Linked DNA regions of Homo sapiens. The protein of the gene in region 1 purifies or fractionates together with the protein of each later gene. This does not show direct contact. Each region holds a gene or a part of one and is shown in the gene's direction. Other genes may lie near its edges. The genes, in order: CFAP20, CDK20, ACIN1, HNRNPUL1, MRPS31, SPINDOC and DCAF1.

Region 1 (4,345 bases):
GTGACGTTTTGTGTCTTGAGAGCCTAAGAAATGCTCCATTGGCAGGGATTGGGGTCCCGTCTAGCCCAGTATTCTGTCTCTGACAATGGGCACCCATTTGTGGAAGCATTCTTCATGCTGGCGGCCCTGTGGGCTTTGTGATATGCCCCAGATCTCTGGCTTCCTATAATAGTCCACGGGGGATGTGTTATCCAGGAATTTTTAAAACCCTCCTTGAACCTATTCATATGTGCCAGCTCTTAGGGTGACAGATTCCAGAAGTCAGCAAATATTTGAACGCTTAGTTTATGGCTAGCACTGTGCTAAGCATTGTCGAAGATAGAAATGATGCTTCATAACTGGTCTTGGCTCTTGCTTGAGCTTATTCTTTTTTAAGGAGACAAGACTTGGTTGCAGTTGTGGAAAAGGTGGGCAGTGACATCAGATGTCACCTTTAGAACACCAGGCAGACCATGAGTGGATCAGACTCACAGTGACAGAGCTCACAGAGACTAATGTCTAAAAACAGAAACATATTATTAATAATTTATGTTGAAAAATAAAACTACCAGACCCAACACTGATTTATCCCCATATGCAAGTCTAATAGCCAAATCGTAATCAGCAGGCTGATGAGTGAACAAGAGGAGCTTTAGTCAGTGTGATTGAGTCATTGATTATGGCAGCCTAACACAGCCCTTTCCACAAAGAAAGACCGTATGTTTGTCTTTCTGATGTCTCCTGTTCTAAACCTAGTTGATCTTTTTCATATGTTATTCCATTCAGCCCTAATAGTCCAGCCTTGTTTTTTTGTTTGTTTGTTCATTTTTGAGACAGGATCTCACTCTGTCGCCCAGGCTTGAGTACAGTGGCACAATCACGGCTCACTGCAGCCTCGACCTCCCAGGCTCAGGTTATCCTCCCACCTCAGCCTCCTGAGGAACTGAGACGATAGGCACGTGCCACTACACCTGGCTAATTTTTTGTAGAGATGGGGTTTCATCATGTTGTCCAGACTGGTCTTGAACTCCTGAGCTCAAGCAGTTCTCTCGCCTCGGCCTCCCAAAGTGCTGGGATTACAAGCGTGAACCACCATGCCTGACCCCAGCCATGTTTTTTTGGTTTTGTTTTTTTTTTTTCGTTTTTTGTTTTGTTTTTTTTGAGATAGGGTCTTGCTCTGTCACCTACTCCTCTAGGCTGGAGTGCAGTGGCACAAACACAGCTCACTGCAGCCTGGACCTCCTGAGCTCAAGTGATCCTCCCACCTTAGCCTCCCAAGTAGTTGGGACTATAGGCACACTACAGGTGCACGCCACCACACCTGGCTAATTTTTTGTAGAAACAATGTCTTACTATGTTGCCCAAGCTGATCTTGAACTCCTGAGCTCAAGCTATCCTCCTGCCTTGGCCTCCCAAAGTGCTGGGATTACAGGCATGAGCCACTGTGCCTGGCCCCAGCCCTGTTTTGAAAGTGCCTTTGCATATCTCTGTTCTGTCCATATTAGTTGCTTAAAAGTTTAATGCTTGAAGATAATTGTTCTTTCCTAAATATTTTGAGAGGAGGAATCTGTATTGAATATTGATTCCTCCCCATCATCTACCTCCTACATATGCAGCAAACAATACAAAACAATGTAGGATGAGGTGCTAAATTATGTCGTCTAGACAACATGAGCCAGAAAAACAAATCAGAGAAAAGAGAGGTCAGTGTGGGCTGAAAATGCTAAAGAAGGCATCTGTGTGTGGCACAGATGGGAATTGAATTCCTGCTTTAAAAAGTAGAAAATTAGGCAAAAGCAGATAGGGAAGCATGAAGCAGGATAACTCCAGGGGAGGAATGCTTTCACTTTTTGTTGCTGCCCTCCTCAGTAACACTCAGCTTTTCTTTGGCTTTTCTGGCCAAAGAAATATACAAGGCAGGACGGGCGCAGTGGCCCATGCCTGTAATTCCAGCACTTTGGGAGGCCAAGGCAGGTGGATCACAAGGTCAGGAGTTCGAGACCAGCCTGGCCAACATGGTGAAACCCCGTCTCTACTAAAGATACAAAAAAAAAAATCGGCTGGGCATGGTGCTGCACGCTTATAATCCCAGCTACTCAGGAGGCTGAGGCAAGAGAATCGCTTGAACCTGGAAGGCAGAGGTTGCGGTGAGCCAAGATCGCGCCATTGCACTCCAGCCTGGGCGACAGGGCGAGACTCCGTCTCAGAAAAAAGAAAAAAGAAAGAGAAAGAAAGAAATCTACGAGGCAGTATGAGGCAGTGGAAAGGCTGCTGAATCCTTAGTCTCCTACTTAGGGTTTGGCATTTGCAGTTCCGGGGTGCCAATGTCCACATTTGTAAAATGAAAACAGTATCACCTGCCTTGTTGTTTTTATTGTGTGAGGCTTAAGTGAGAAGGGGATGTGTGTGATATTCCTGGTGCATAGTAGGCATTCAGTAGATATTAGCTGAATCTAAATTGAGTTGATGTATTTGGGGAGAAGTTTCCCCAGATTTAGGGATTGCCAAGTTACCTGGGATTCCCTTGGTGGTTGGTGTGACCCTGTCTAGAGGTAATAGCTTGGCTTACTTACATATAAGCTTCAGTGTGCTGTGTCACAAATTTCTTTGTACGCCTCTTGGGCTACCGTGGTTTTCTTTAAATAGTCCTATTCAGCCTTGTCAGATATTTCAGTACTAATCGAATTTTCTTTCTTGTAGGTACGGAATGGCCACATCAAAAGAATCACTGATAATGACATCCAGTCCCTGGTGCTAGAGATTGAAGGGACAAATGTAAGGTAGGTTGCCACCTCTGTTCTCCCAGAGACATCATATACTAGGGAGGCAGTACGTCATAGAGGTTAATAGCACAGACTGCGGAGTCAGAGTGCCGGATGTGAGTCTATCTCTGCCACTTAGAGCTTACCATGGGCAAGTTACTGAATCCCCCAGACCTTAGCATACTCATCTGTACAATGGGCAGAATAATAGTACATTTTCCTTATAGGGTTATTGCGAGGAGTAAATAAATGAATATATATAAAACACGTAAAGCCTTGCTTAGCACATAGTAAGCACGATGTCAGTATTAGCTATATTATTAACCAAAGTGTGTGTTGGGGTGGGGAGTGGGCAGTGTTGTACAGCTCATCCAGTGGGTGGACAGTGTGGTTTTCAGTGCCATAGAGGTCTCAGTTTTGGTTTTCTGTCATTCGATGGCTCCCCTGGACCAGAATTGAGGTCTTCTCTCACTGGAGGAGCTTCTAAGATCCACTGTCTGGCTTTGTTTTTCAGATATTTTATTGCTGCTGTCTAGTCCTGTGTTAAGCTTTTGTTTCTGGGTCCAGCGTTTGTTAAAGCAGCCGCTGACTTAGGGCTGAGGGATTCACTGGGTGGCGTGTCTGAATCTTTTAGATCTGCTTTCCAGTGTATCCTCTTGGACCGTGTGTTATTGTTGTGCATACCACAAAGGAAGAGAGTCCAGGAGTGTGTTTATTAGTATTTCCTCTCTCTACAGCACCACATATATCACATGCCCTGCAGACCCCAAGAAGACGCTGGGAATTAAACTTCCTTTCCTTGTCATGATTATCAAAAACCTGAAGAAGTATTTTACCTTCGAAGTGCAGGTAAGTATGTGTACATGAATGTGTCCACTCTTGGCTATACCAAAGTGATAGCCTTTGAACTGATGGGAAAAAGTGACCCTACAAAGTATCTTTATCCTTTTGCATGTATTCTTTTCTGCTTCTAGTATAAGCCCAGTGCAGTCCTTGTTATGTAAATTTGATATTAGTAATAAAATTTAATCAGGTTTTTAAAGAAACAGCACCTAGAAAACCTAGTAATTTCAAAGTGTCAGAGTTAGCGTGGTATCCATTTGGGGAGTGATTATTTAATAGTGGGTGGCTGTTCTGTTTTAGTATTTCTGATTTTTCAAAAGGAAGAACATTTATATACTCTATGGTCTGAGAGCCTGCTGACTGTGTTATATGTCATAAGCAGCTGGTGTTGTCTTGGCAACAAACAAGATAAACTTGCTACTTCCGGGCCATCTGCATGCAGTGTATGACCTGTGTCTGGTCTGTTTATTTTCCTCTAAGTCTCAGCCTTGGGAAAGCAAGCTGTGGGAATTCAGGTCCTTGTCTGGACAAGGTTGTGTGCTTCTTCCAAGACAGAGCTAGTGTGATGCTTCTTCTCTGTATTTCACAGGTACTAGATGACAAGAATGTGCGTCGTCGCTTTCGGGCAAGTAACTACCAGAGCACCACCCGGGTCAAACCCTTCATCTGCACCATGCCCATGCGGCTGGATGACGGCTGGAACCAGATTCAGTTCAACTTGCTAGACTTCACACGGCGAGCATACGGCACCAATTACATCG
Region 2 (3,996 bases), on another chromosome or scaffold:
CTAGCCTCCTTCTGTGCTGGCGTTAGGGCCTTGCACTTGCTTTTCTTCCTGCTCAGAGCTTTATCCCAGATCCCCACAAACTGGGTCCTCATCTAGCCCCACCCCACCTAAATAAAGAAGTATCCTTTTCTCCACTCACAGAATCACACTATCCTCTTCTAGTTCTGTTGATTTTTTTTCTTTTTTTGATACAGGGTCTCACTCTGTCACCCAGGCTGGAGTGTAGAAGTGCGATTTTGTCTCCCTGTAGTCTCAACCTCCTGGGCTCAGGTGATCCTCCCACCTCAGCTTCCCAAGTAGCTAGGACTACAGGCACGTGTCACCATGCCTGGCTAGTTTTTTGTATTTTTTGTAGAGACAAGGTTTCACCATGTTGCCCAGGCTGGTCTCAAACACCTGGGTTCAAGCCATCCGCCCACCTTGGCCTCTCAAAGTACTGGGATTACGGGCATGAGACGTCATGCCCAGCCCCCTTGTATTTTGGTTCCTGTACTTACAGAATCTGAATATATCCCTTTTATTCATTTATTTGTTAAACTGTTTGTCCTTTGTGCTGTGAGTTCATTAAGAGTCCTGTCTCTCAGCTCACTCTCTGTGTAGCCTGGCTCCTCTGACAGTACTGGCCTCAGTGTTTGTGATGTGTCTGTAGCTGTCCCAGCACTGGGAAAGGTGGGATTCCTGGTGTCCTTTCCTTGGTGCTGGGATTCGGTGGTTCTAGAGGAAACAGGAGGAGACCTGTCCATCTCATGTGTGACCATCCAGATGATTTTCAGGCGGGTAGGCTGGGTGGGCGGACCAGATGGTGCCACTAAATGACCTTTTTTAGACCTTTTAGTGTTCATGGAGAATTAGAGTGGGGGCACACCTTATCTCAGGAGAGCAGAGCAAATCATGAGCATCGAGCTCTCTGATTCTTAGCTCAGGTCCACGTCACCTTCTTTGCTTACTGTCTTTTTGGATACAGGGTCCTCTGTCAGGGCATGGGCTGGGGTCTCAGGGTCACAGAGAGGGTCTGGTGACTTGAGTCTGGGGGCTAACAAGATGTCCTGCCCACAGGTGGTACAACTGAAGGCTGTGTTCCCACACGGTGGAGGCTTTGTGCTGGCCTTTGAGTTCATGCTGTCGGATCTGGCCGAGGTGGTGCGCCATGCCCAGAGGCCACTAGCCCAGGCACAGGTCAAGAGCTACCTGCAGATGCTGCTCAAGGGTGTCGCCTTCTGCCATGCCAACAACATTGTACATCGGGTCAGTCTCAGCATAGGCCGGGCATGGGGTCTGGGGAGCTGACTTGGCTTGGGGATGGGGCTAGCCCTTGTAAAAGGTGTGATAAGAAGTTGGGACAGAGCTGGTCAAGGCCTCCAGGTAAGTGGCCAGGGCATGGCCCTGGAGGAGGTGGGGACCGGGGCTGACCTGAGTGGTTAGACTGCCAAGCCCGCTTGTCCCAAGGTCCTATGGGGGATTTGGAGGGACTGATGCTTCTTTTGGTACTCCCAGGACCTGAAACCTGCCAACCTGCTCATCAGCGCCTCAGGCCAGCTCAAGATAGCGGACTTTGGCCTGGCTCGAGTCTTTTCCCCAGACGGCAGCCGCCTCTACACACACCAGGTGGCCACCAGGTAGGGAGGGCCAGATCCCTTCCAGTCTTCTCCATGGGGAAGAGATGCTTCTGGGCCTTTTCTCCAGACATTGCTTGTGGGGCTGGGGTCACCTCCCCAGGCATCCTTTTCTCAGCCCAGTGCCTGCCAGCCCTCTTCCTCGCAGGTGGTACCGAGCCCCCGAGCTCCTGTATGGTGCCCGCCAGTATGACCAGGGCGTCGATCTGTGGTGAGACCCCTGTGGGTGGTCAAAGGGTAACATGGCTCATGGATTTCTGCTAGGCTCTGAGGTCTCTGAGCTGTTTGGTGGTCTTTTCCCTGGTGGGAGTTTAGGCTTCCTTAAGGGTGTCTTCCCTGGTTGGGGTATTCTGAGCACTTTGGGGTTGGGGTTCCTCACTATGATGTTTTCGAGCTGGGTAGGGGCCAGGTGGGATGAGAATGGTGGTCCCAGGTGGGAAGCTTTCTGGGCTAGATGGGGAGGTGGTCTGAGCCGATATGTGCTGGAGTTAGATCCTAGGATATGGCATCTCTGAGCTGGTCAGAGGCCTGTGTCCTTGGACATGAAAGCTCTGAGCTTGTTTTGCAGCAAGAAGATAGTTGGCAGTGCCCATGGGTCTGAGATTTGGGGCAGGTTTGCAGGTCTGCCCCAGAAGTGTCCTAGAGCAGGAGTCTCCGAGAAGTCTTGGAACAGCTGGGGCTTTGCTCTGGGTTCTAGGGTTGAGGGCTTTGAGGGTTCAGGGACTGGGCCTCTGGACGTGAGGCTCCAGGGCTGGCTTGTGGGGCCTTGCCCTGGAGTGCAGTGTTAGAGCTGCTCTGTGGGTGGGTCTGTGGTCCATGGTGGGAGATCTCTGACCTGCTTGGGGCTCTGTGTCCACAGGTCTGTGGGCTGCATCATGGGGGAGCTGTTGAATGGGTCCCCCCTTTTCCCGGGCAAGAACGATATTGAACAGCTTTGCTATGTGCTTCGCATCTTGGGCACCCCAAACCCTCAAGTCTGGCCGGTTTGTAGGGGCCCTTGGTGAGGTGGGTGTGGGGCAGGTTTACTCCACTCCCAACAGCAAGTAACCACTCCCTCCCCTGAACCTTCTCTCTCCTGGCCCCAACCCCCCTTGATGGACAGGGACCACTGTCCTGGCCCAACTCAGGGCTTCCTCCTTCCTGCTGTCATTTGGGTTGGGGTAGATCCTGTCCTTTGTCCCTTTTCACCCCAGTACACACATGTGCAGTGTCTCAGCAAGCTGTGCACAGAGTCGTCATCTGAGAGGGCAAGGGGATGGATGAAGGAATACAGGGGTGGGTGAGTGAATGAATGATGGGTCAGGGAGACACATGGATGGGAGAGCACCCCCCATGTGAGTGTGTGTTAGGGGCTGAGAGTTGACAGCAGAGAGCATGGCAAGGGTCGGGAACTACTCTCATTGTACCCTGTTCCTTCTCCCTGGCCCAGGAGCTCACTGAGCTGCCGGACTACAACAAGATCTCCTTTAAGGAGCAGGTGCCCATGCCCCTGGAGGAGGTGCTGCCTGACGTCTCTCCCCAGGCATTGGATCTGCTGGGTCAATTCCTTCTCTACCCTCCTCACCAGCGCATCGCAGCTTCCAAGGTAGGGGGAGAGGCTGTAGTCTCTGCTCCTTCAGCTCCCCTCCCCATCACCCTGGTACTCTGTACTTGGTAGCCATGTGACCCCATCACATCAGCGACCCTCAGAACCTGTGATTGGCATGGACCAGCACCAGACATCTGGAACCCAGGGGACAGGGGCCTTGGAGCAGGTGTGCCTCTCATGAGTAGACCCCACTGGACATCCCCAGACTTCCCCTGAGGGTGGCCCATACGAGGGGCATGCCCAACTCTCAGGAGAGCGCGTGTCCGGGAGTGCAGGTTTCTGGGCTGCCCCTGACCCTGTGGCAGATACAGTAAGAGAGTCACTGGGGACTCATTCCTTTATTCCATTAGCAAGTATTTTCTGCACATCTGGCACATGCAGGGATTGTCCTGGGCCCTGCACAGATGGTAAACAATCAGTCCTACCTCCGCGGGGCACTCCTGGTGGTGAGGTAGCTCCAGGTCCAAAAGGTCACAAGAGGTCATGTTCTCCAGCTGTGGGAGCCCCAGGAGAGAGGCAAGGCCGACTTTGGGGTCAAGCAAAGCTTCCTGGTGGAGGGCAGGTTTAAGCATGAGATGTTTGAGGAGGTGTTCGCTGAAGAGAGAAATGGTGGGCAGAGGCCTGGAAGAGAGGACCCAGGAAGGCTGGTTATGGCTGGTAGGCCTGGGAGGACGATGACCACAGGAGCATGGGCTGACAGGTGTCAGGGTGTCTCTCAGGGGTCCCTGTCCCCTCCCTGCACTCAGCACCAGCCGCGTGTGTTTACATACGCCCTCTTGGTCTCCACTGTCAGCA
Region 3 (4,700 bases), on another chromosome or scaffold:
TCTTTATATTTTGCATTGCTGACTAATTTCTTGTTTCATGTCTGAGGCGCCTCCAGTTTCTGCTTTTATTGCAAAACAGTGATGACCAGAACTTTCTGAACAGCCCTGTTCATTTCTCCAGATCTCTTTGATGACTTACTACAAGTTCTTCCAGAGGAGTAATCATCCAGAAATCCTATCACTGCAGTTTTACAGTATCAAAAATAACATTATAATTCAATAAATAGCATATAATTCACAGTAGGTAGATAAAGAGGCTGTTTTGCTTGTACATACTAATTTTAAAATTGCAACTCAGTTATTTGACTTTGTTGTTGTTGTTCTTGTTGTTGTTGTTTTTTGAGATGGAGTCTCGCTCTGTCGCCCAGGCTGGAGTGCAGTGGCGCGATCTCTGCTCACTGCAAGCTCTGCCTTCCAGGTTCACGCCGTTCTCCTGCCTCAGCATCCCAAGTAGCTGGGACTGCAGGCACCCGCCCCCACACCCGACTAATTTTTTTTTTTGTATTTTTAGTAGAGACGGGGTTTCACCATGGTCTTAATCTCCTGACCTCGTGATCGCCCACCTCGGCCTCCCAAAGTGCTGGGATTACAGGCGTGAGCCACTGCGCCCAGCGTTGACTTTAACACATTTATCTCTGACCAACCTTGCACTTGCCTTTTTTTTTTGGTGTGTGTGAGATAAATCAGCTTCTTTCACTGATACTTGTGAAGGAACTTTGCCTAACATTTATGAAAACTTTTTATTTTGGTTTTACTTATTTTATAACTTAGCCTATTTCAGATCACTGAATTATGAAATGAGTATTTCATTTCACTGCACTACTGTCTTACAGATGTCTTCAAATGTTTGCTAAAGAGTCTGGCCTTTCACTATATATTCTAATCATATATCCTGTATGAACAACCATAACACAAATCTTTCTTCACTTACCCAGATACGAAATGGTATATACTCAGAGGTCCTTTTAATCAAATGATCATGAAGTAAAGTTTTACAAAATATGTGTAGTCTTCTAATTGATTTCATTAGTTTCATTTTGGGTTTTTTTTTTTTTTTTTCTTTTTTGAGATGGAGTCTCGCTCTGTCGCCCAGGCTGGAGTGCAATAGCGCCATCTCGGCTCACTACAACCTCTGCCTCCCAGGTTCAAGCGATTCTTCTGCCTCAGCCCCCTGAGTAGCTGGGACTGCAGGCGTACGCCACCACGCCCAGCTAAAATTTTTTTTGTATTTTTAGTAGAGATGAGGTTTTACCTAATTGGCCAGGCTAATCTCAAACTCCCGACCTCGTGATCTGCCCGCCTCGGCCTCTCAATGTGCTGAGATTACAGGCATGAGCCACCGTGCCCAGCCTCATTTTGATTTTTTAATTATTATTACAGAAGCATTCGCCTAGTTCATTTTAGATTGTAAGGATATAGAAATAGAGAAGGCCGGGCATGGTGGCTTACACCTGTAATCCCAGCACTTTGGGAGGCCAAGGAGGGGGAGGATGACAAGGTCAGGAGTTCGAGACCAGCCTGGCCAACGTGGCAAAACCCCGTCTCTACTAAAAATACAAAAGTTAACCAGGCGTGGTGGCGGGCGCCTGTAGTCCCAGTTACTCAGGAGGCTGAGGCAGGAGAATCACTTGAACCCAGGAGGCGGAGGTTGCAGTGAACCGAAATCGTGCCATTGCACTCCAGCCTGGGCAACGAGCAAGACTCTCTCTCAGAAAAAAAAAAAAATAAGAGAGAAGATCTTGGGTTAGAGCTGCATACCATCTGCTTTATTTGCACTATTACTATACAACATGGTTTTGTGTACAGAACCTTTTGTACTGTATTAACATTGAGTCCAATCTAGCTGATCAAGTATCTGGAATATAATTATCTTCCTGCTATTTTCTAAACTGGTTCTCATTGATGTTAGTATTGCTACTGTACATAGTTGATCTTTTTTGTTTTTTTGAGACGGAGTCTCGCTCTGTCGCCCAGGCTGGAGTGCAGTGGCGCGATCTCGACTCACTGCAAGCTCCGCCTCCCAGGTTCACGCCATTCTGCCTCAGCCTCCTGAGTAGCTGGGACTACAGGCACCTGCCGCCACGCCTGGCTAATTTTTTGTATTTTTAGTAGAGACAGGGTTTCACCATGTTAGCCAGGATGGTCTCGATCTCCTGACGTCGTGATCCGCCTGCCTCGACCTCTCAAAGTGCTAGGATTACAGGCGTGAGCCACCGTGCCCGGCCGCCTAGTTGATCTTAATTCTGGTAGGAAATTTGGAAATCATCTAGTGCAGCCCCTCCTTTTTCTCAATCATGACATTTGAGACTCGGGCACAGTGGTTTATACCTTAATCTCAGCACTTTGGGAGGACCGGGGTGGGAGGATTACTTGAGCCCTGGAGGCTGAGGCTGCAGTGAGCCATGATCATGCCACTGCACTCCAGCCTGGGTGACAGAGTAAAACACTGTCTAAAAAGAAAGATATTGAGACCCAAATTACTTAAGTGATTTACCCAGTTACCTTCCTTCATGGAATTTGAGTGAAACTTTCTTTCCGTTTTACATGGATTTATTGTTCAGGATAACCTAGATTGGTGGTTTCCAAGCTTTTTAATAGAACTTTTTTTTTCCTTAAAAAAAAAAAAAATCTCACCTAGTCCGGGTGCGGTGACTCACGCCTGTAATTCCAGCACTTTGGGAGGCCAAGGCGGGGGGATTGCTTGAGCCCAGGAGTTCGAACCAGCCTAGGCAACATGATGAAACCCCGCCTCTGTAAAAAATACCGAAATTAGCCAGGTATGGTGGCGTGCGCCTGCAGTCCCAGCTGCCCGGTAGGCTGAAGCAGGAGAATCGCTTGAACCTGGGAGGCGGAGGTTGTGGTGAGCCTAGATCATGCCATTGCACTCCATCCTGGGCAACAAGAGCAAAACTCTGTCTCAAAAAAAAAAAAAGAAAAACATGTGAGCTCATGCCTGTAATCCCAGCACTTTGGGAGGCCAAGGCGGGCAGATCACTTGAGGTCAGGAGTTTGAGACCAGCCTGTCCAACAGGATGAAACCCCATATCTACTAAAAATACAAAAATTAGCCAGGCATGGTGGTGGGCACCTGTAATCCCAGCTACTCAGGAGGCTGAGGCATGAGACTGGTTTGAAGCCAGGGGGCAGAGGTCGCAGTGAGGCGAGATTGCACCACTGCATCCAGCCTGGGTGACAGAGTGAGACTCCATCTCAGAAAAAAAAAAAAAAAAAAAAAAAATATTGAGCTCTAATACATAAAACCTAATAGACAGGACCCAATTCTGAAACCCCATCCAGTTGGCTTGAAGTAATTTCAGGAACTTTAGGGCGCTGAAAAACATTCCTCTAAGTATTTATTTCTTGAGTTTGTTATTGTGCAAATTCATATATTTCATCATAATATTTTGGTTGAAATTAGAAAGTAGTAGTAATAGGCAATCCAAAAAAATGGATACAGAACATAATGAAGTCTTAAACTTTATTCAGAGTAAGAACACTTTGTAGAAATAAGTACACTTCATATTTGTACATCCCTGCTAGACAGTTTGAAGCCCCTGGAAATTATTTTACATTTATTTGAGTTATTTATAACATGTGAATTGGCTTCGAGGTGTTGAAAATATTCTAGACTTGCACACCAAGAATTACCAATAAGACCCTGACCTAGTTAGGGCTTTTTGTAGTCTTTTCTTTAGTGTAGAAGTCAAAGAAACCGATACAGATATGTCTTGATAGGCTCATATGCTATAATTGGTTGGATATTAGAAAGCCTGATTTTTAAAAAGCCATGAATGAGTCTTCACTTCATGAATCTGACTTGATTCTTTTTCATTCAATAGGAAAAAGCTCCTCAATTTCTGAAGAGAAAGGTGACTCTGATGATGAGAAACCAAGGAAAGGAGAAAGACGATCATCTAGGGTCAGACAGGTAACTCAGATACCTCCTAAAGCATTACCTCTTCAGTAATGCTTTGGATATCTTCTCTTCTTCAGACTTGTTTTGAGTTTGTATGTCTCTACATTTAGGGGTTTTGTTTTTCTTTTTTGGGACAGAGTCTGGCTCTGTCGCCTAGGCTGGAGTGCAGTGGCACAATCACAGCTTACTACAGCCTCGACCTCCTAGGCTTAAGCAGTCCTTCCACCTCAGCCTCCCAAAGGATTGGGATTACAGGCATGAGCCACTGCCTGGCCTCTAGATTTCTTTGTGGTTATCTTCCTTCTCCTCTTTGTCATCTTTTTGTTGTTCGTTTTGTCTTTTTATTTAGATCTGCTCTGCCTTTTAGATTTCTAAGTGAATATTTTTTAAAAGTTTAAATTTGAAAATTAGCAGGCTGCTCTGTATTCTTAAAGCACATTATTAGACAAGATATGACATAATTAACCATTCAATCAAAGCTTTAAAGTTATATAACACTAAGTGGGCAGAATACAAAAATGTTATGTGTAGTGTAATTATGACTGTACAAAGGAAATGATTAGAGGAAAGAACAAAAAGAAATATACCAAAATGATAAAAAGATAATCGTATTAATTGATAGTAGGTTAGTTCCTTTCAGCCCCCTATCCACCCTTTTACTTTCCAGATGTTCTGCTAATATTTTACTGAAAAAAAAAAAAAGGGGGTGCTTGAAGCTAAAATTTAAACTACATACAAGTAGCTTCATTGTGATATTTCTTTTGGTCACTTTGTTTTGATTCCC
Region 4 (4,700 bases), on another chromosome or scaffold:
CTCCTGCCTTGGCTGCTCAAAGTGATGGGATTATAGGCGTGAGCCACTGCACCTGTCTCCTCATCAGTTTTCAGGACAGGACTGGACCACCTTTTCCTTCGTCTTCATCTCAGTCTAGGCACAAGACTCAAATACTTGGAGCTTCTTAAAATTACCTGCTTTAGGACAGGTGCAGTGGCTCAAGCCTATAATTCCAACAGTTTGGCAGGCCAAGGTGGGAAGATCACTTGAGTCCAGGATTTCAAGACCAGCCTGGGCAACATAACAAGACCCTGTCTCTACAAAAAAATTTAAAAATTAGCCAGGTGTGGAACATGCCTGTAGTCCCAGCTACTCAGGAGGCTGAGGTGGGAGGATTGCTTGAACCTGGAAGTTTGAGGTTGCGGTGAGCCCTAGCTGTGCCACTGCACTCAGCCTGGGGGACAGGGTGAGACCCTGTCTCAAAAAAAAAAAAAACAAAAAAAAAAAACTCTTGCTTACTTGCTTCATATCCACCAACTTTGGGGTCTTAGGCAAGGAGGACTTTGGGCTGGACATTCTCTGAGATGTTCACTGATGCTGCCCAGCTTACCTGTATGTTGGGGAAGGATGCACTTCAATCTGGAAAGCTGTCCACATTCTACTCCCTGCATCTACTGTCCTCACATTTGACTCCCAGTGCCTATGGCAAGAGTTGGCAATCATATTCCTTTGGCTTTTTCTCCTAGGATTTTGAATGTGGAAATGACGTGGAACTGTCTTTTACCAAGAATGGAAAGTGGATGGGCATTGCTTTCCGAATCCAGAAGGAAGCCTTGGGGGGTCAGGCCCTCTATCCTCATGTCCTGGTGAAGAATTGCGCAGTGGAGTTCAACTTCGGACAGAGAGCAGAGCCCTACTGTTCTGTCCTCCCGGGGTTTACCTTCATCCAGCACCTTCCCCTTAGTGAGCGTATCCGGGGCACCGTTGGACCAAAGAGCAAGGCAGAATGTGAGGTGAGTGGGGCCAGAATGTATTGGTGGCCACCTTGCTGCCAAGACAGAGGAGACACACACACACACACACACACAGACTTGCTGCGAGAGTAGCCTTGGGGCAAGTGGCCACTTTGTCCCAGCTCCTCAGGGTTGGACTCAGAGCTGAAAAGCTGCTCTGAGTGTGAGGTGAGGGGTGTTGGTGTGACCTAAGTTGAAGTCGGAGAGGCTACCTAAATCTCAGAAAGATTGCATCTTCTTCTTAAGTGAGGCCAGAATAGGGGAAAAGGAGGCTTTTCTTACAGCAGAAAAGGACACTAGGCGCTTCTTGGGGAGTGCACTGTGCCACCAAGTGTTCTTTTTTTTTCTTTAGAGACAGGGTCTCGCTCTGTCACCCAGGCTGGAGTGCAGTGGTGCGATCACGGCTTACTGCAGCCTTGACCTTCCAGGCTCAAGTGATCCTCCCACCTCAGCTTCTCGAGTAGCTGGGACCACAGGTACATGCCACCATGCCAGGCTAACTTTTTTAGCCACTGAGCCTGGCCCACCGAGTGTTCTTGAAGGAGGTTGAGTAAGTTCCACCTCTCACCCAGAGCTATCAAAAGATAAATGGCCTTTGGGAAGATTTGATTCCAAGAGCTATACTAGTGTCTTTTTTCTTAAAACAATATTTTTCTTGTATGTGTAAGTTATTTATGCTTGTTCTAGAAAATTAAGAAGTAAAAAATTTAAATTTTCATAATGCCATCATCTACAAATAAGTTTACTTGCAGAGTTTTGGAGTTCATCTGTTCTTTTTAATGTCTAAGTGCCTGTTTTATGCTCACAAACATTTATCATTGAGATTCTATGGTATAAGCATTATGATACCCTGCTCTTTTCACTTCACATTATTTTGTGAGCTTTATCCCATCACATAAAAACCTCTCTTTGAACATCATTTTTTCTTTTTTAAAAATCCTTCAAGGGAATGAACGTCATTCTTAATGGCCTTACAAACTCGCCACTCCCCCCTAGTCGGGCATTTAAGATGCATCTGTGTTTACCAAATTCTAAATGTACTGATTAGATACAATTCATGTCCTTGTGTGTGCAGCTCTGTTCCTATTTCATACTTAAAGAAAGTTGTACCACTTCTACCCACTCCATGGGGCCAGTCCCAGTACACAGCCTTCCCTGGGCTATTGCAGGGGGCGGGGAATGGGTCACATAATCCTGTAAATGGGCTGGGTTTGGTGGCAAATGCCTATAATTCCAGCACTTTGGGAGGCCAAGAAGGGAGGAGGATCCCTTGAGTATAGGAGTTTGAGACCAGTCTGGGCAACATAAGGAGACTCTCATTTCTACCAAAAAAAGAGAGAAAAAGATTAGCTGGGTGTGATGGTTTGTATCTGTAGTTCTAGCTACTCTGGAGGCTGATGTAGAAGGATTGCTTGAGCCTGGGAGTTCAAGGCTGCAGTGAGCTGTAATTGGGCCATTACACGCCAGCCTGGGCAATAGAGTGAGACCCTGTCTCAAAAAAACAAAATACTATAAATGCTAATGATGACAGCACTTGGTTTTTTGTTTTTGTTTTCCCCCGAAAGTCCTGGGATTATAGGCGTGAGCTACCGTGCCTGGCCAGCACTTGACTTAATGCTCACCCTGTCCCAGGCACTGTGCTCAGAGTCTGACAAGCCTGATCTTTTTGAATCCCGATACCAGTACTGTGAGGTAGATGGTATTACTGCTTCCGCTTTGTAGAGGCAGCCACAGCTCAGAGGTCCAGAGTCACACTCACAGTCACCACCGAGCCAAGTGGTGCCATACCACCATGCCGCAACACCTTCCCTGTCTTGTTCTTGTAGATTCTGATGATGGTGGGCCTGCCTGCTGCTGGCAAGACCACATGGGCCATCAAACATGCAGCCTCCAACCCTTCCAAGAAGTACAACATCCTGGGTACCAATGCCATCATGGATAAGATGCGGGTAAGGCCAGCCACTGGACTCTCCTTACTCACCTCCAACCTACTGAGTGCTGCCCTGCAACTAAAATCACTCACCCCTCACCAATTCCTGCCCGCAGGTGATGGGCCTACGCCGGCAGCGGAACTATGCTGGCCGCTGGGATGTCCTGATCCAGCAGGCCACCCAGTGCCTCAACCGCCTCATCCAGATTGCTGCCCGCAAGAAACGCAACTATATCCTAGATCAGGTACTTAATGATGACCATTGTGTCCTCAGGAGAAGGGAGGGGACCCCTTGCATGCCTGAGAATCTCCCTCTGGTCCCTTTCTTTTTTCCCCCGTAATGATGATGGACTGCTGTGCTAGTCGGGGGGGTCAGACCTTGTCATACATGATGACATGGTACTACACACAGCTGAGCCTGGACTGGGATCATGATCTAGGCCTACTTACTCAGACTCATCAGCAGCCCCAAAGAACATCAGGTAAGAACTGTTTAGCAAAATGGAAGGAGTATGGATTTCCAAGCCTGAGAGACTGGAGCTTGAATGCCAGCTCGGCTACTCCCTAGCTCTGTGCCTTTGGGCAGCTGACTTTATTCTCTGAATCTCCATCTCTTGGTTTGTAAAACAGGGATCTCAATACCATCTGCACCCCTAACGCAGGACCTGGCACTTAGTAGCTGGTGATTATTGTTAAATACTCTACAGAATAGGTAGAGTAGCTTTCATGCCAACAGCAGTGCTGTAAGGTAAATGCTATTATTGCTTCCGTCATTTTCTCTTCACAAATACGTATGACTGGCAGGTACATACCTAAGTCATATTTTCTACCTACACTTCAGTTAATGGTGGAGTTCTTAACATCAGGGACCTTGGAACCTTTGTATTTGAACATAAATATTGTATGCAGCTGCAGGTGTATCCTTTTTATGAAAAAGAAGGGAAAAAAAAACAGTTTTTTGTCCCTATCTTTCAGCATTCTCAAAAGGATGAGTGACCCAAAAATCATTACAGATTCCTGTCTCAGAGTAATGAGTTCCACATGGTTATTGCCTATGCAACGTCATTGCCTATTGACATTTGTCCTGAAGGCTTTCACAAGTAACAAAGGGTGTCTCCTTATTTTCTATGTTTGGGGATCTGTGAATGAGCCTCTGTTCCCTTCAGCCTTGCATTTGTGCTTTCTTAAGAACCTGTGAGTGAGCAAATATGTAAACTAAGTAACACCCTGCCCTTGTAGCCTTCCTGAAGTGCCTTCCATACGTGTAGGCCTGGATACTTGGTGACCATGAGTTCAAAGGGCTCCTGATAAGAGTGGAGGTGGGGACAGCGTTTGGCTTTGTCAGAATGGTAGTTTGCTTGTTAGAAAGGAATCGCCAGAGACCGAGTTGCCTTCACATAGGAATGAGGATCCTACACAAAACAGTTGAGCACAGGATAGTCTAAAAGCCATCCGTGGTTATCCCCCCAGCTCATATTGTGTACAATCAGTGTTCTCTCCGCTTTGAAGATTTGTCTTTTAAACCCTTGGCCTCACTTTACCTGATCCTCCTTGTCGGGGCATTCAAGAATTTTTTTAGTCTGTATTGACCCCAGTTGGACTCATTGTCGTGAAAGGGAGAGCAGTAATACCATTTTAACACTCTGAGGATACATACCTCTTTTGGATACCCTAGCCAGTATTCCTCCCTGTCTTTTTCTTGGTTTGCTGGTTAAATCAGCTGTGAAACTCATTTCAAATATGTGGCCTAGGGGAGAATGATTATAGTCTAGAGTGGATCGTCTAACATCTCTGTC
Region 5 (4,700 bases), on another chromosome or scaffold:
CAGTTTGTACTGTAAAGTGAGAATAATGAAACCTGTTCTGTTAAAGTGTAAGGATTAAGTAACATACATAGCTACTGTAACGTGGTCCTCTGACCAGCAGCGTTAGCGTCACCTGGGAGTTTGTTAGAAATGCAAATTCTCAAGTGTCTCCTGGACAAAGCTGTTGAATCAGAATTCTTTGGTGGGACCAAAGTATGTTTTAGCAAGGAGCATAGATAATTTCTGTGGGCCAGGTGTGGTGGCTCACACCTGTAATCCCAGCACTTTGGGAGGCGGGCAGATCGCTTGAGCCTAGGAATTCAAGCCTGGGCAACATGGCGAAACCCTGTCTCTACAAAAAATTAGTCCCAGTTAGGAGGCTGAGGTGGGAGGATCACCTGAGCTCAGGGAGGTCAAGGCTGCAGTGAGCTGAGATCACACCACTGCACTCCAGCCTGTCTGACAGAGTGAGGCCCTGTCTCAAAAAAAAAAAATTTTTATGCATATTAAAGACTTCCAGGGGATTTAGCGGGGTGATGCCTGTTGGAGGTCAGTGCCCTCCTAGTTGGGGGGTGGGGGCTAAGCTTAAAGTTTGAGAAGCAGTGCTGTAGCACGTCAGCTTCATAAAGGCAGGGACCATGAAATTCTTATTTACTAATATATTGTCAGTACCTAGTATAGTGCCCACCACAGAGTAGATATTCACTATATTTAGCAAATAATTTTTTAATATACCCTCTTACTGAAACTAACACATTCAGAGTTTTGAAAATTCTTCAGTAGTCAAATACCAAAACAAATTTTTAACCCCACAGAATAAAATTGGATATTTGGATTACTTAGAATTAGGAAATCTTTTTGCATGAGTCTAATATAGATGTAATCATTTGTGTTGTTCTTTTTCATAAATGTATCTAGTGAAGAAAGCACAAATGACATTTCTAGCCATTGATTATTCTCTTTTCTGTTCCATTCTAGCTTTCCTTACAAATGGTTATGGGTTAAGTAGCATGTAGCTCGATGACAATGTTGATCAGATTAGATAACACCCACTCAGAAAGTTTTTTTGAAATAATCTTTTTTATTGATAGAAATTTATTTTTGTATTGTTTAATGATAACTTTTAAAGAGGTATTGTGTTAAGAGCAAGGACTTGCAGTCAGTCACATTTGGGTTTGAGAATAATAAATTGTCATTTATTAACCATGTCAGTGTTTTTCTACCCAACCCTGGGGTAAATGGAGGGAGGGAACAGACTTGGGAGCACCAGCACCCCCAGACCTCCCCTGGCCACCCCAAGGACCAAGTGATCAATATCTCAGCACACCTCTACTTATTTGTGGCACACAGTGTGTTTTAGTTCTTAGTGAGCTGTGAGCTACATGACTTTGGGACTTCTCTGATTTTCAGTTTCCTTATCTGCAAAATAGAGACCTTAGGGAGTTAATGTGGGTATGAGAAATGTAAATAAAGTATATTTCACAAGATGAGACATGTAGTATATGCTAATAAATGGTAAGTTGCTGCTGTTATGGTTGTTAACAATAATTATAAAAAGAGACCAGCCTGGCCAACATGGGGAAACCCCATCTTTGCTAAAAATACAAAATTAGCTGGGCATGGTGGCACATGCCTACAATCCTAGCTGCTCGGGAGGTTGAGGCAGGAGAATTGCTTGAACCCTGGAGGCGGGGTTTGCGGTGAGCCAAGATCGCGCCATTGCACTCCAGCCTGGGCAACAAGAGCGAAACTCCGTCTCAAAAAAAAAAAAGCAACGGAAAGGGCTTGAATTGAAAAAAAATCTTAGATACATAGTTTTTTACTTTATTGTAAGTAAGTTTTTTACTTTATTGTAGACTGCATTGTATTTTTCATTTTTTTCTTTAATGCATCTTTCCAGGACAAAAAATAACATCCAAAGATATTTTGGCACTAACAGTGTGATCTGTAGCAAGAAAGATAAGCAGTCTGTTCGAACTGAGGAGACTTCCAAGGAGACTTCAGAGAGCCAAGACAGTGAAAAGGAAAATACGAAAAAAGACTTGTTAGGCATTATTAAGGGCATGAAAGTTGAATTAAGCACAGTAAATGTACGAACAACAAAGCCCCCCAAAAGAAGACCACTTAAAAGTTTGGAAGCTACACTTGGCAGGCTTCGAAGAGCTACAGAATATGCTCCAAAGAAGAGGTAAATTTAATTGTAATTCAGATGTTGTTTGAAACTCCAGTAAGCTTTTTGTTTTGGTAAAAAATATTTTTAATACAAGTACTTGGGAAATGTTGAATTAATGAAGAATAAATATCAGCTTGTAAACACAGGGACTCTAATAATTACTCGAGGCTGGGCATGGTGGCTCACACCTGTAATCCCAGCACTTTGGGAGGACGAGGCGGGCGGATCACTTGAGGTCAGGAGTTTGGAGACCAGCCTGGCCAACATGGTGAAACCCCGTCTCTACTAAAACTACAAAAGTCAGCTGGGCATGGTGGTGCGTGCTTGTAATCCCAGCAACTTGGGAGGCTGAGGCAGGAGGACTGTTTGAACCCAGGAGGCAGAGGTTGCAGTGAGCCAAGAATTGTGCCACTGCACTCCAGCCTGGGGGATCAAGCGAGACTCTGTCTCAAACAACAACAACAACAAAATAATAATTACTTGAGAAATGCTGTTATTGTATTATATTTAAATAACAAGAGGATATCTGTACACAATCCAGAGAAAGGAAAGGAGAAATGATCTCATTGAGAATTTCACACACTTACATATTTATCAGTGTTATTAACTGCCATGTAATTGCCTCTTTAAGCTGTTAATTAACAATATCATTTACATCTTGATTTGAAGGTAGCTTAATGTCTGTAAAGGACTTGCTTATTTAAAATTTTCCATTTTAAAGATTTCTGGAATAAAGTTTTAGCATGTTGATTACAATTGCTTTATATGACTTCCCTTGATCAATACCTATCAGTGCTTTCAGCTTTCTTGGTAGTTTCCTCAGAGTATTAAAATTATTTGTGTTTGTCAAAAGAGTATTATATTTAATTCTAAATGCAATCAGTGATACTTGGCATTGTGTGGTAGGTTAAATGGCAGTATTTTTTTTAGTGCTATGTAATGATGTATTTCAATGATGTCATTAATTCAAGTAGTAAGCTATGTGGCTTTAGGATACTCATCACTGACTTCTGTTACCAGAACAAACAGATTTTAATAGTCTTCTGTTTCCCAAACTGATTTAACATTTTAATGGAACTTCTTGGTTTCTACGTTATATCAAAAATACCTCTAGAAAGTATGATTGGGTAGTAGAGTAAGCTAATTCAGACTATCAGTACCCATAATAGGTACTTCCTCCTCCTCCTCCTGCTTTTAGAAACAAAATGGTTATATATAAGTATATGGAAATAAATAATACAAACATATATAAATACTTTTCAAGAATGGCATTTTTAAAGCTCCTAGACCTGTTTATGATCCATCATGCTCTTTATTATAATTATAATTGAATTAACGATTACAGAAATGGTAAAGTGAGTTGAATGCTTTGGAAAGAGTCAGTAAAGGTCATTTAAAATTTTTCTTTCCAATTAGGTATGAGTGAGGCAAACATACATGTGTGGGAAGATCATACACTTAGATTGCTTTGTAAGCTTTCTTACATTCTTGCTCCACTTTTCCACTTAAACTGAAATTGAAAATACTGGAGGATGGGTGTGATGTATATAAAAGATGTGTCTTAGAACCTCTATTAGTGGTCCTATGTTCAAAGAAGAGGCTTTGGTCCCACATCAAAAGACTGGTGAATGAGGTACATTTGTTTTGAGTTTTAAAAAGGTGTCTTTTAATGATTTTTTCCTCCCCTCCCTCTTTTTCAAGGACTCCAAGGTGCACGGGATTAGGTTAGTCATGATCTTTGCTTCATGAGACACTGTCATCATTGCTTCATACATAGACTGCTTTTCTTTGTTTGTATTAAATATTGAACCTTCATTGATATGGTTACCATGGCTACACTACCTCCCAAACTTAGTGGCATAAAACATTCATTCATTATGCTCACAGATTCTGTGGGTTAGCGATTTGACTAGAACACAGTGGGGGAAGGCCAATCTGTGCTCTGTGATGTCTGGGGCCTCAGTTGGAAGACTTAGAAGTCTGAGGCTGGAATTGTCTGAAGTTTGCTCACTCATAGGTCTGGCAGTTGCTGCTGGCTGTCAGCTGAGACCTTATTAGCAGAAACACCTACATGTGGCTTTCTTTGTGGGCTGGGCTTTATCCCTGCATGGTGGCTGGGTTCCAGGGCGGGTGTCTCAAGAGAAAGTGAGCCAAGAGAAAGTTGTATTTTCTTTTTAATGACCTAGCCTTGTAATAAGATTGGACATTACCGTGTTTACCCTTGTTCCACATTGATTTTCCTGGGATATTTGTTTTTATCACAACCACTCCTGAGAAACAATCTTGACAAAGATATAATGTCATTGATAGGAATGGAGCAATATACAGTTGGTCCTCTGTATGTGCAGGTTCTGTATCCACAGATTCAACCAATTTCTGATTGAAAATATTAAAAAAAAATACAATATAACTACTTACATAATTAGGTATTATAAGTAATCTAGAGATAATTTAAAAGTATTCGGAGGATGTGCATTACTTATATGCAGGTACTCTGCCATTTTATGTAAGGGGCTTGTGCATCCATCCTGGTGGGGGCCAGAGCTGT
Region 6 (3,580 bases), on another chromosome or scaffold:
CTGGCTCCCTGAGACCGAGTGTGCTGCTTGGACTTGAGCGTGTCCCGAGTCTCCTGGTCCTCTCCGGTGGATCCCTGCTCTAAATGGCTGACCTCTTCCACTGTCTAATGGGTCTTCTGATTTCATTCTCGAAAGGGAGCCCTCATTTCAAGTCCTGGGGTACCCTGTGCGCAAACTCCATCTATCTGGAGTGGTGAGTAGATGAGAAGAGAATCCCTGAGATTCTAGGTTTCTTTGGGGTGAGTGGGCAAAGTCTGAGAGGAAGGGGCTTCAGCAGGCTGCTTGAGTGATCTGAGGGGGCGGAGGCAATTGTAGGGTGTTGTCAGCAGTGGCAGCCTTCGTGGAGGTTGGAGATGCCTGGGAAACCATAGAGGATACCTCACTGGTACACAAGTGTTCCTGGAGCCTGTGCCCGAGGGAGGCACCCTGGGAGATGGCATGAGTGAGACAGCCTTTGTCCCCCAAAATTCTGTGTCCAGGTATATAGGCTGGAGGCAGTAAATCTTTAAAAACCAGGGGCCCCCGTGGCGGTTCTTTGCGGAGCAGAGGCTCTGGACCTGTGGTTTCAGACGATCTCACGAACCCAAAGCTTGGACAGATTTCTCAGAAACCTGTGAGGCTTCGACCAAAATGTCTCTACTTTCTGTGTTGTTATGTACGTATTGAAGTTCTCTGAAGACTTTATTTAAATAAAGATCCTGCCACTTTAAAAAAAATTAGAGGTGTAAAAATCGTGGATTTAACAGTTGGAAAAGGCCACCTGTGGTCAGGTTAGCTGAGCTGATGAATGTGAATGTGAGGTAGTCCAGGAAGACTCTAGAACCTTCTGAGGACCTTGCCAGAGGAGGATGGGGAGAGTGTGCAGGCCAGGAGAGGAGGTGGGCCACAATGACCCACTGACAAGTAATGGAAAGAGGAGCCTCTCTGTCTTGCTGGTGTTTTTCTTTTTTTTATTTTGGAGATGGAGTCTCGCTCTGTCGCCCAGGCTGGAGTGCAGTGGCGTGATCTTGGCTCACTGCAAGCTCCGCCTCCTCCCAGGTTCACACCATTCTTCTGCCTCAGCCTCCCAAGGAGCTGGGACTACAGGCGCCCACCACCACACCTGGCTAATTTTTTGTATTTTTAGTAGAGACGGGGTTTCACTGTGTTAGCCAGGATGGTCTCGATCTCCTGACCTCGTGATCTGCCCGCCTCAACCTCCCAAAATGCTGGGATTACAGGCGTGAGCCACTGCACCTGGCCTGTTTTTCTTTTTCTTTTTTTTTTTTGGAGATGGAGTTTTGCTCTTGTCGCCCAGGCTGGAGTGCAGTGGTGCAATCTTGGCTCACTGCAACCTCCGCCTCCCAAGTTCAAGCGATTCTCCTTCCTCAGCCTCCTGAGTAGCTGGGATTACAGGCGTGCGCCACCACGCCTGGCTAATTTTTTTGTATTATTAGTAGAGATGGCGTCTCACCCTATTGGCCAGGCTAGTCTCAAACTCCTGACCTCGGGTGATCCGCCCACCTCGGCCTCCCAAAGTGCTGGGATTACAGGCATGAGCCACTGCACCTGGCCGGTCCTTCTCTTTATGATCTCGTGGTTACGGTGGGCTGATCACTCACTCCTTCCTGGAGACAACTTTCTTCCCTTGGCTTTTCAGGCAGCTGCTCGCCTGGTGTTCCTCTTCCCTCACTAACTGTTCCTTCTCAGTTTCTCTTGCCGCTCACTCTCAGCTCCCAGAGTTGGAACACGTCGTATCATTGTCTGCCTTTCCCTTTCTAGAATGTAAGGGCCTGCAGGTTAGGGTGTTTGCGTCCTGCACTATAATATCTGCGGTAACCAGAACAGTGCCTGGCACAGCGTAGGCCCGGCTTATGTGTTTGGTGAATGAGTACGTGCTTAAGTATCCGCAGCCGTGGGTCAGTGTCGGTACTCGCTCCCTGGGAGATCTCATCCAGGTTCACAGCTTTCAATGACATGTGTGTGCTCATAATGCCCACCTTGGCTGCTCCTTCCTGGTTCCATCCTCTTTTCCAGTTGCCCAGGTGGCGTCTCTACATGGGTGTCTAAAAGATCTCAAACATTGTGCCACCGCACTCCAGCCTGGCGACAGAGCGAGACTCCATCTCAAAAAAAAAAAAAAATCTCAAACTCGCCACATTGAAACTGAACCCCCAGTCTCACCAATGCACCCTACCCCTAGACTCCACAATCTTCCCTTTCCCAGTGAACAGGCAGCCCCAGGCTTCAGTTTGCTGTGACCACACCCACACAGTCATCCTCTTCTTTCTCCAGCCCAGCATCTGTCCAGCAGCCGATCCTCCAAAACAAGTTCAGAGCTCACACTGCTGTCACCACATCCACTGCTGCTACCCTAGTCAGGGCCGGCTCTCGCCTGGTTCCTGTAACAAACCTAAGCCAGGTCTCCTGGCTGCTGAGCTTTGCCCGCTATGCTCTGCTCTCCTGTAGCAGCCAGAGTGTCCCTGCTGAGAACACAAGTCAGATCCAGTCACTCCTCTACTCATGGCCTTTCTGTGCTGCTCCTGTTGCACTCCAGATAAAAGCCAGAGCCTTCATGGTGACTAGTGAGCTCCCCACAGGCTCCTGACCTCTCCCCCCACATCCCGCTCCCCGCACAGGCACTGGCCTTGCTGTTCCTGGGGAAGCCAGCGTGCTCCACCAGGGCATCCACATTTGCTCCTCCCTCTGCTCAAAATGCTGTTCCCTCCCTGTCTGCCTCACTGGCTCCTCACTCCCTCTGTGTCTGTGGTCCCCTGTCAGCTTTCTGCTATCCTATTATCCTATCTCCTTTCCCTGGTGTACTTTGCTACTTTGCATCTGTCCATATATAACATACTGCATTTTTTATTTGTTTATCCTATTTATTAGCTCTGATAAATAGAATGTGAAGTCCCAGAAGGCCACTTAGGGAGCTCCATTCACCGCTGTACCCCTAGCAATCCAAACGGCATTGGGCATATAGTACTCAATAAATTATTGTCAAATTAATGAACAAATGGGGTTCAGTGTTCCTTCAGGGAGCCTATAGTTTATCAGGGAGACAAACTGTGTTCTGGGAACACAGAATAGCATTTGGTAGGTGATAAAAATGGGGTGGCAGCCACTAAGTCATTTTAAATTCCAGCACATCGCACAGCAAAATTGTACCTGTTTTCTGTGCCACATTTTAAATAATCGTGTCTCTAAAAACAGGGTAGAAAAGGAACACACACAAATAAATCCTTCCCAATATAGACAGTGCAGTAGTTGAAATCACCATCTTCTGTTTTTGCCTTTCAATGTAATGTAACTTTTTTTTTTTTTGAGACAGTCTCACTCTATTGCCCAGGCTGGAGTGCAGTGGCGTGATCTTGGCTCACTGCAACCTCCACCTCCCAGGTTCACGCGACTCTCCCGCCTCAGCCTCCTGAGTAGCTGGGATTAGAGGGGTGCACCACTATGCCTGCCTAATTTCTTTGTATTTTAGTAAAGGGGTTCTCCATGTTAGCCAGGCTGGTCTCAAACTCCTGACCTCAAGTGATCTGCTCACCCTGGCCTCCCAAAGTGCTGGGATTACAGGCATGAGCCATCATGCCCAGCC
Region 7 (4,700 bases), on another chromosome or scaffold:
ATTCTTCTGCCTTTACCCCAGTCACTGCTGCTGCTTCTCCTGTCTCTCTACCCCGAACCCCTCGTATCGCTAATGGCATTGCAACTCGTCTGGGCAGCCATGCTGCTGTGGGTGCCTCTGCGCCTTCTGCCCCTACTGCTCATCCTCAGCCACGGCCCCCCCAGGGTCCGCTAGCTCTGCCCGGCCCATCTTATGCAGGCAACTCCCCTTTGATTGGTAGAATCAGTTTTATCAGAGAGAGGCCATCACCCTGCAATGGCAGGAAAATCAGAGTGTTGCGGCAGAAGTCGGACCATGGTGCCTACAGCCAAAGCCCAGCCATAAAAAAACAGCTGGACAGACATCTTCCTTCCCCACCTACGCTGGACAGTATAATCACAGAGTATCTTAGAGAACAACATGCTCGCTGCAAGAATCCAGTTGCCACCTGCCCACCTTTCTCCCTCTTTACTCCTCACCAATGTCCTGAGCCAAAACAGAGGCGGCAAGCGCCAATAAACTTTACGTCAAGGCTAAACCGCAGGGCATCATTTCCAAAGTATGGAGGGGTGGATGGCGGATGCTTTGATAGGCACCTTATCTTTAGCAGGTAAGAAGAGGCCCCTTCTTACTCCCTGGGAATTGGAATGATTCTTTTATTTAAATCAAACTGGGCAGTATCAGCATAGTTGTCCTGAAATACCACTGATTGTTACTTTGTGTAATACTTGAACAATGTAATTGTACCACCTTTTGTCAACCATGGGTTCCTTGTGTGATTGTTGGCAGTATATTGATATAATCGTTTGTGTTCTCATCTCAACTAGTATGTTTTCTAGAACCCACACCCCCTCATTACTACTGTCCATAAGGAGGCTCCCAAACTTGTGCTGGTGCAAGTTGCTTCCTGTTCTGATTCTTGACAAATCTTACATAAAGGTTACGGGATCACAGGTTTTAAACATGGGAATTTTTTTTTTTTTTGGAGACGGAGTCTCTCTATCGCCCAGGCTGGAGTACAGTGGTGCTATCTTGGCTCACTGCAACCTCTGCCTCCTAGGTTCGAGTGATTCTCCTGCCTCAGCCTCCTGAGTAGCTGGGATTACAGGCAGGCACCACCATATCTAGCTAATTTTTGCATTTTTAGTAGAGATGGGGTTTTACCATGTTGGCCAGGCTGGTCTTGAATTCCTGACCTCAATTGATACCCCCCCTTCGGCCTCCCAAAGTGCTAGGATTATAGGCATGAGCCACTGTGTCTGGCCTAAACATGGGAATTTTTGTTATTTAAATTTGTAAGTGGAAATCTTTTTCTTATTTAAAATAAAAAGCACTGAAGGTCACTGTGATTTTGGAAGAAGCCATTTGAAACATTAATGTTCTGTGCTTTTTCTTCTATCCTAGCAGTTTGCTTTTTCTGAGTCCCTGCACATTCTTTGCCTGTGATTCTCTCTTTTTTTTGCTTAGATTCCGTCCTATTTCAGTGTTCCGGGAAGCCAATGAAGATGAGAGTGGCTTCACCTGCTGTGCATTCTCAGCACGGGAGCGGTTCCTGATGCTTGGCACCTGCACAGGGCAGCTGAAGCTCTATAATGTGTTTAGTGGACAGGAGGAGGCCAGCTATAACTGTCACAACTCAGCCATCACACATCTTGAACCTTCCAGGGTAAGGGTTCCTTCCTAGGATGCTCTCAGTCATTCTTCCAAGATGAATTGGTGAACTAGAGTAAAGGAGGCTTACCCTTTATTGAGCTCTCTCTTTTAAATGAGTCCTCAACTGGAAAGTCTAGTTGAGGTTAATTCATATTTCAGATGGAGACTGAGGAATATGGCAAAGTTAGTAGGAAGAAAGGAACCATCTTTGACATCTTCTCATTTTCCCCCCTCCCTTTTATCTATTCTATTTTTGTGGCTAGTTCAGTAGGATTTAATATTCTCTTAAGTTTGGTTATTTTATAGGACACTATAGGTGTATGTATTCAAATCCTAGTGGCTTCTGACCATTTCTTGGTTTCTGGGGATTATAAAATTGTCTCTTTAATTCAACAACATTTTTATGCAAATCTTTAAAAATGCTAATGGCAGGTAGTGACATCTGCATGTATGTAAATACGTGGTTACCCACCTTGCGCCTTTTTCTTTTAGGATGGGTCCTTGCTGCTGACATCTGCTACTTGGAGCCAGCCTTTGTCTGCACTTTGGGGAATGAAGTCAGTATTTGATATGAAGTATGTATCTGCTTTTGGAACCTAGTCTGTGCTTTATTTACCTAGTTTATACCCCCCTTCATTTGGTTCTTAGACTGGAAGCCTTTTGGGGAAAGAGGATGCTGTCGGTTATTGTTAACTTCTCTCTTCCTCATCTAAGACTCATGTTTAATAAGACTTTATCTTTCTTAATTCCTAGATACTTTTATGAGGTATATACATTCTCATTATGCAGCAGACCCCGACCCAGAATCTATGTATTTTCCCATGTTCACATAGGACATTGCAGTCTTTGCTGTGTCTCCTCTCCTCTCCTCTCCCCTCCCCTCCCCCCTCACCTCCCCTCCTTTTCTCTCTCCTCTCTTCTCCTCTCCTTTCCTTTCCTTTCCTTTTTTTTTTCTTTTTTTTATTTTTTGTGAGACAGAGTCTCGTTCTGTCGCCCAGGCTGGAGTGCAGTGGCGCGATCTCAGCCTACTGCAAGCTCCGCCTCCCGGGTTCACACCGTTCTCCTGCCTTAGCCTCCCGAGCAGCTGGGACTAGAGGCGCCCGCCACCACACCTGGCTAATATTTTATATTTTTAGTAGAGACAGCGTTTCACTGTGTTAGCCAGGATGGTGTTGATCTCCTGACCTTGTGATCCGCTGGCCTTGGCCTCCCAAAGTGCTGGGATTACAGGCCTGAGCCACCGCACCTGGCCTTTTCTTTTCTTTCCTTCTTTAGACGGGGTCTCATTCTGTCACTTAGGTTGGAGTGCGGTGGCACAAACATGACCTACTGCAACCTCCACCTCCCAGGCTCAAGTGATCCTCTCATCTCAGCCTGCTGAGTAGCTGGGACCACAGGCATATGCCACCACGCCTGGCTAATTTTTTGCATTTTTGATAGAGATAGGGTTTCGACATGTTGCCCAGGGTGGTCTCGAACTCCTGAGCTTAGACAATCCACCTGCCTCAGCCTCTCAAAGTGCTGGGATTGTAGGAGTGAGCTACCATGCCTGGCCCCTTTGCTGCGTGTTTCAAAGGCACATGTGCCCTGTTTGTCATTTCTCTAAGGAATTCCCATTCATTATTTTGTATCTGCTTGGTTAAGGTGATAGAAGGAATTTTCTTTGTAATCTAAGTGTATGATTGTTTCCTCTTTGGGAGTCCAGGATCTTTAGGTGAGTGTGATTGTGCAAGAGGCTGGGGGTCACCTGTGTTTCAGTTGGTTGCAGGAATATGTCCTGAAGATCTGTCACTTCAGTGCTCCTGTTGTTTGTCCATAGGCATTCCTTCACAGAAGATCACTATGTTGAGTTCAGTAAGCACTCCCAGGATCGGGTCATCGGCACAAAAGGAGACATTGCCCACGTAAGTACTTAAGAACCACTGTTTTCAAGCTGATCATACCCATTTGTTCATACTGAAATCTTCTTGATAGAATGTGAGGACCTAAGTCCTTTGGGCAACTAGAAATCAGTGATATTCCTTCTAGTTAGAATCTAAAAGTATGATAATATAGTTCTGAGCTGTATGGGAAAAATGTATAAGGGCTAAATGTGACATTGAGAAAGATGTCATTAGCACCACAGATATTTTTGAATTCTTAGTAAGTTTTAGATTAGAAATGAAACCCCTGCCTTTATGGACCCTCATTGGGGAGACAATAAAGAAGCAAATATACGGTAAATTTAGGTGGTAAGTGTTTCAGAGAAAATGAAAGCAGGGTAAGAGGTAGGAAATGCTTGGTGGTGGTGTGGGGGACTTCTCTTTTATCTAGGGTAGACAGCATCACTGATGGGGTAATGTTTAAGCAGAGCCTTGAAGGAAACGCGAGATTCAGGAAGATACCTGGAGGAACAGCGTAAGGCACAGGAAATGGCAAGGGAAAAGCCCTTGCTTGGGAGGTGGGAGGAGAGCTGAGGTCAGTGAGGGGCCTGTATCTGGTAGCATCTTGTAGGTGGTAGTTAGGGCCTTTAGCTTTTTTTTTGAGTGAGATGAAGACACTGGTGGGTGAGTAGAGGATACATGAGTGGATGTAAAGTTCCTGAAGTGTGACTCTGGTTTTTGTGAGAGAAGCAAGAGCAGCCTTCCAGGTCAGAGGGTGTTGTACCACCTGACACATGAGAGGAGCTGTGGGTTTGGGCCTGGGTAGGCATGGTAGAGGCTATGAGAAATGGAGGACCTTGGCCCTGGGATTTTGGACACATGAAATTTGAGATTCTCTTAGACATTCAAGTAGAGAATGGGGATTGAATACAAAAGTTGGGAGCTGGCCAGACTTAGTGGCTTCTGCCTGTAATCCCAGCACTTTGGGAGGCTGAGGTGGGAGGCCAGGAGTTCGAGACCAGCCTGGGCAACATAGAGAGACTCCCCCCATCTCTACAAAAAATAAACAAAATTGGCTGAGCTTGGTGGGCTTGGGACCTATAGTCCCAGCTACTCAGGAAGCTGAGACGGGAGGGTTGCTTGAGCCCATGAGTTGGAGGCTGCTGTGAGCTATGATTATGTCACTGTACTCCAGCCTGAGTAACC

Evidence for each region.
Region 2: the proteins of CFAP20 (region 1) and CDK20 purify together in Homo sapiens (affinity purification with mass spectrometry; 3 studies listed by BioGRID and IntAct, with this or other methods). This does not show direct contact.
Region 3: the proteins of CFAP20 (region 1) and ACIN1 purify together in Homo sapiens (affinity purification with mass spectrometry, with the first as the bait; one large-scale study listed by BioGRID). This does not show direct contact.
Region 4: the proteins of CFAP20 (region 1) and HNRNPUL1 purify together in Homo sapiens (affinity purification with mass spectrometry; one large-scale study listed by BioGRID and IntAct). This does not show direct contact.
Region 5: the proteins of CFAP20 (region 1) and MRPS31 purify together in Homo sapiens (affinity purification with mass spectrometry; one large-scale study listed by BioGRID and IntAct). This does not show direct contact.
Region 6: the proteins of CFAP20 (region 1) and SPINDOC purify together in Homo sapiens (affinity purification with mass spectrometry; one large-scale study listed by BioGRID and IntAct). This does not show direct contact.
Region 7: the proteins of CFAP20 (region 1) and DCAF1 purify together in Homo sapiens (affinity purification with mass spectrometry; one large-scale study listed by BioGRID and IntAct). This does not show direct contact.

The regions. Positions count from the first base shown.
Region 1 is NC_000016.10:58,115,286-58,119,630, reverse strand, and holds part of CFAP20 (cilia- and flagella-associated protein 20), read left to right. Parts: intron 1-2,679; coding exon 2,680-2,759; intron 2,760-3,478; coding exon 3,479-3,590; intron 3,591-4,173; coding exon 4,174-4,345. UniProt on the Homo sapiens protein: Cilium- and flagellum-specific protein that plays a role in axonemal structure organization and motility. Microtubule inner protein (MIP) part of the dynein-decorated doublet microtubules (DMTs) in cilia axoneme, which is required for motile cilia beating.
Region 2 is NC_000009.12:87,968,396-87,972,391, reverse strand, and holds part of CDK20 (cyclin-dependent kinase 20), read left to right. Parts: intron 1-1,056; coding exon 1,057-1,245; intron 1,246-1,494; coding exon 1,495-1,616; intron 1,617-1,746; coding exon of another isoform or gene 1,747-1,761; coding exon 1,762-1,824; intron 1,825-2,472; coding exon 2,473-2,596; coding exon of another isoform or gene 2,597-2,617; exon of another isoform or gene 2,618-2,618; intron 2,619-3,042; coding exon 3,043-3,198; intron 3,199-3,524; exon of another isoform or gene 3,525-3,822; intron 3,823-3,996. UniProt on the Homo sapiens protein: Required for high-level Shh responses in the developing neural tube.
Region 3 is NC_000014.9:23,080,976-23,085,675, reverse strand, and holds part of ACIN1 (apoptotic chromatin condensation inducer in the nucleus), read left to right. Parts: intron 1-3,461; exon of another isoform or gene 3,462-3,839; coding exon 3,840-3,928; exon of another isoform or gene 3,929-4,700.
Region 4 is NC_000019.10:41,291,538-41,296,237, forward strand, and holds part of HNRNPUL1 (heterogeneous nuclear ribonucleoprotein U-like protein 1), read left to right. Parts: intron 1-707; coding exon 708-974; intron 975-2,800; coding exon 2,801-2,923; intron 2,924-3,020; coding exon 3,021-3,149; intron 3,150-4,700.
Region 5 is NC_000013.11:40,764,213-40,768,912, reverse strand, and holds part of MRPS31 (small ribosomal subunit protein mS31), read left to right. Parts: intron 1-1,879; coding exon 1,880-2,167; intron 2,168-4,700.
Region 6 is NC_000011.10:63,822,656-63,826,235, forward strand, and holds part of SPINDOC (spindlin interactor and repressor of chromatin-binding protein), read left to right. Parts: exon of another isoform or gene 1-135; coding exon of another isoform or gene 136-193; intron 194-479; coding exon of another isoform or gene 480-501; exon of another isoform or gene 502-2,992; intron 2,993-3,580. UniProt on the Homo sapiens protein: Chromatin protein that stabilizes SPIN1 and enhances its association with histone H3 trimethylated at both 'Lys-4' and 'Lys-9' (H3K4me3K9me3).
Region 7 is NC_000003.12:51,415,623-51,420,322, reverse strand, and holds part of DCAF1 (DDB1- and CUL4-associated factor 1), read left to right. Parts: coding exon 1-589; intron 590-1,446; coding exon 1,447-1,645; intron 1,646-2,124; coding exon 2,125-2,207; intron 2,208-3,451; coding exon 3,452-3,536; intron 3,537-4,700. UniProt on the Homo sapiens protein: Acts both as a substrate recognition component of E3 ubiquitin-protein ligase complexes and as an atypical serine/threonine-protein kinase, playing key roles in various processes such as cell cycle, telomerase regulation and histone modification.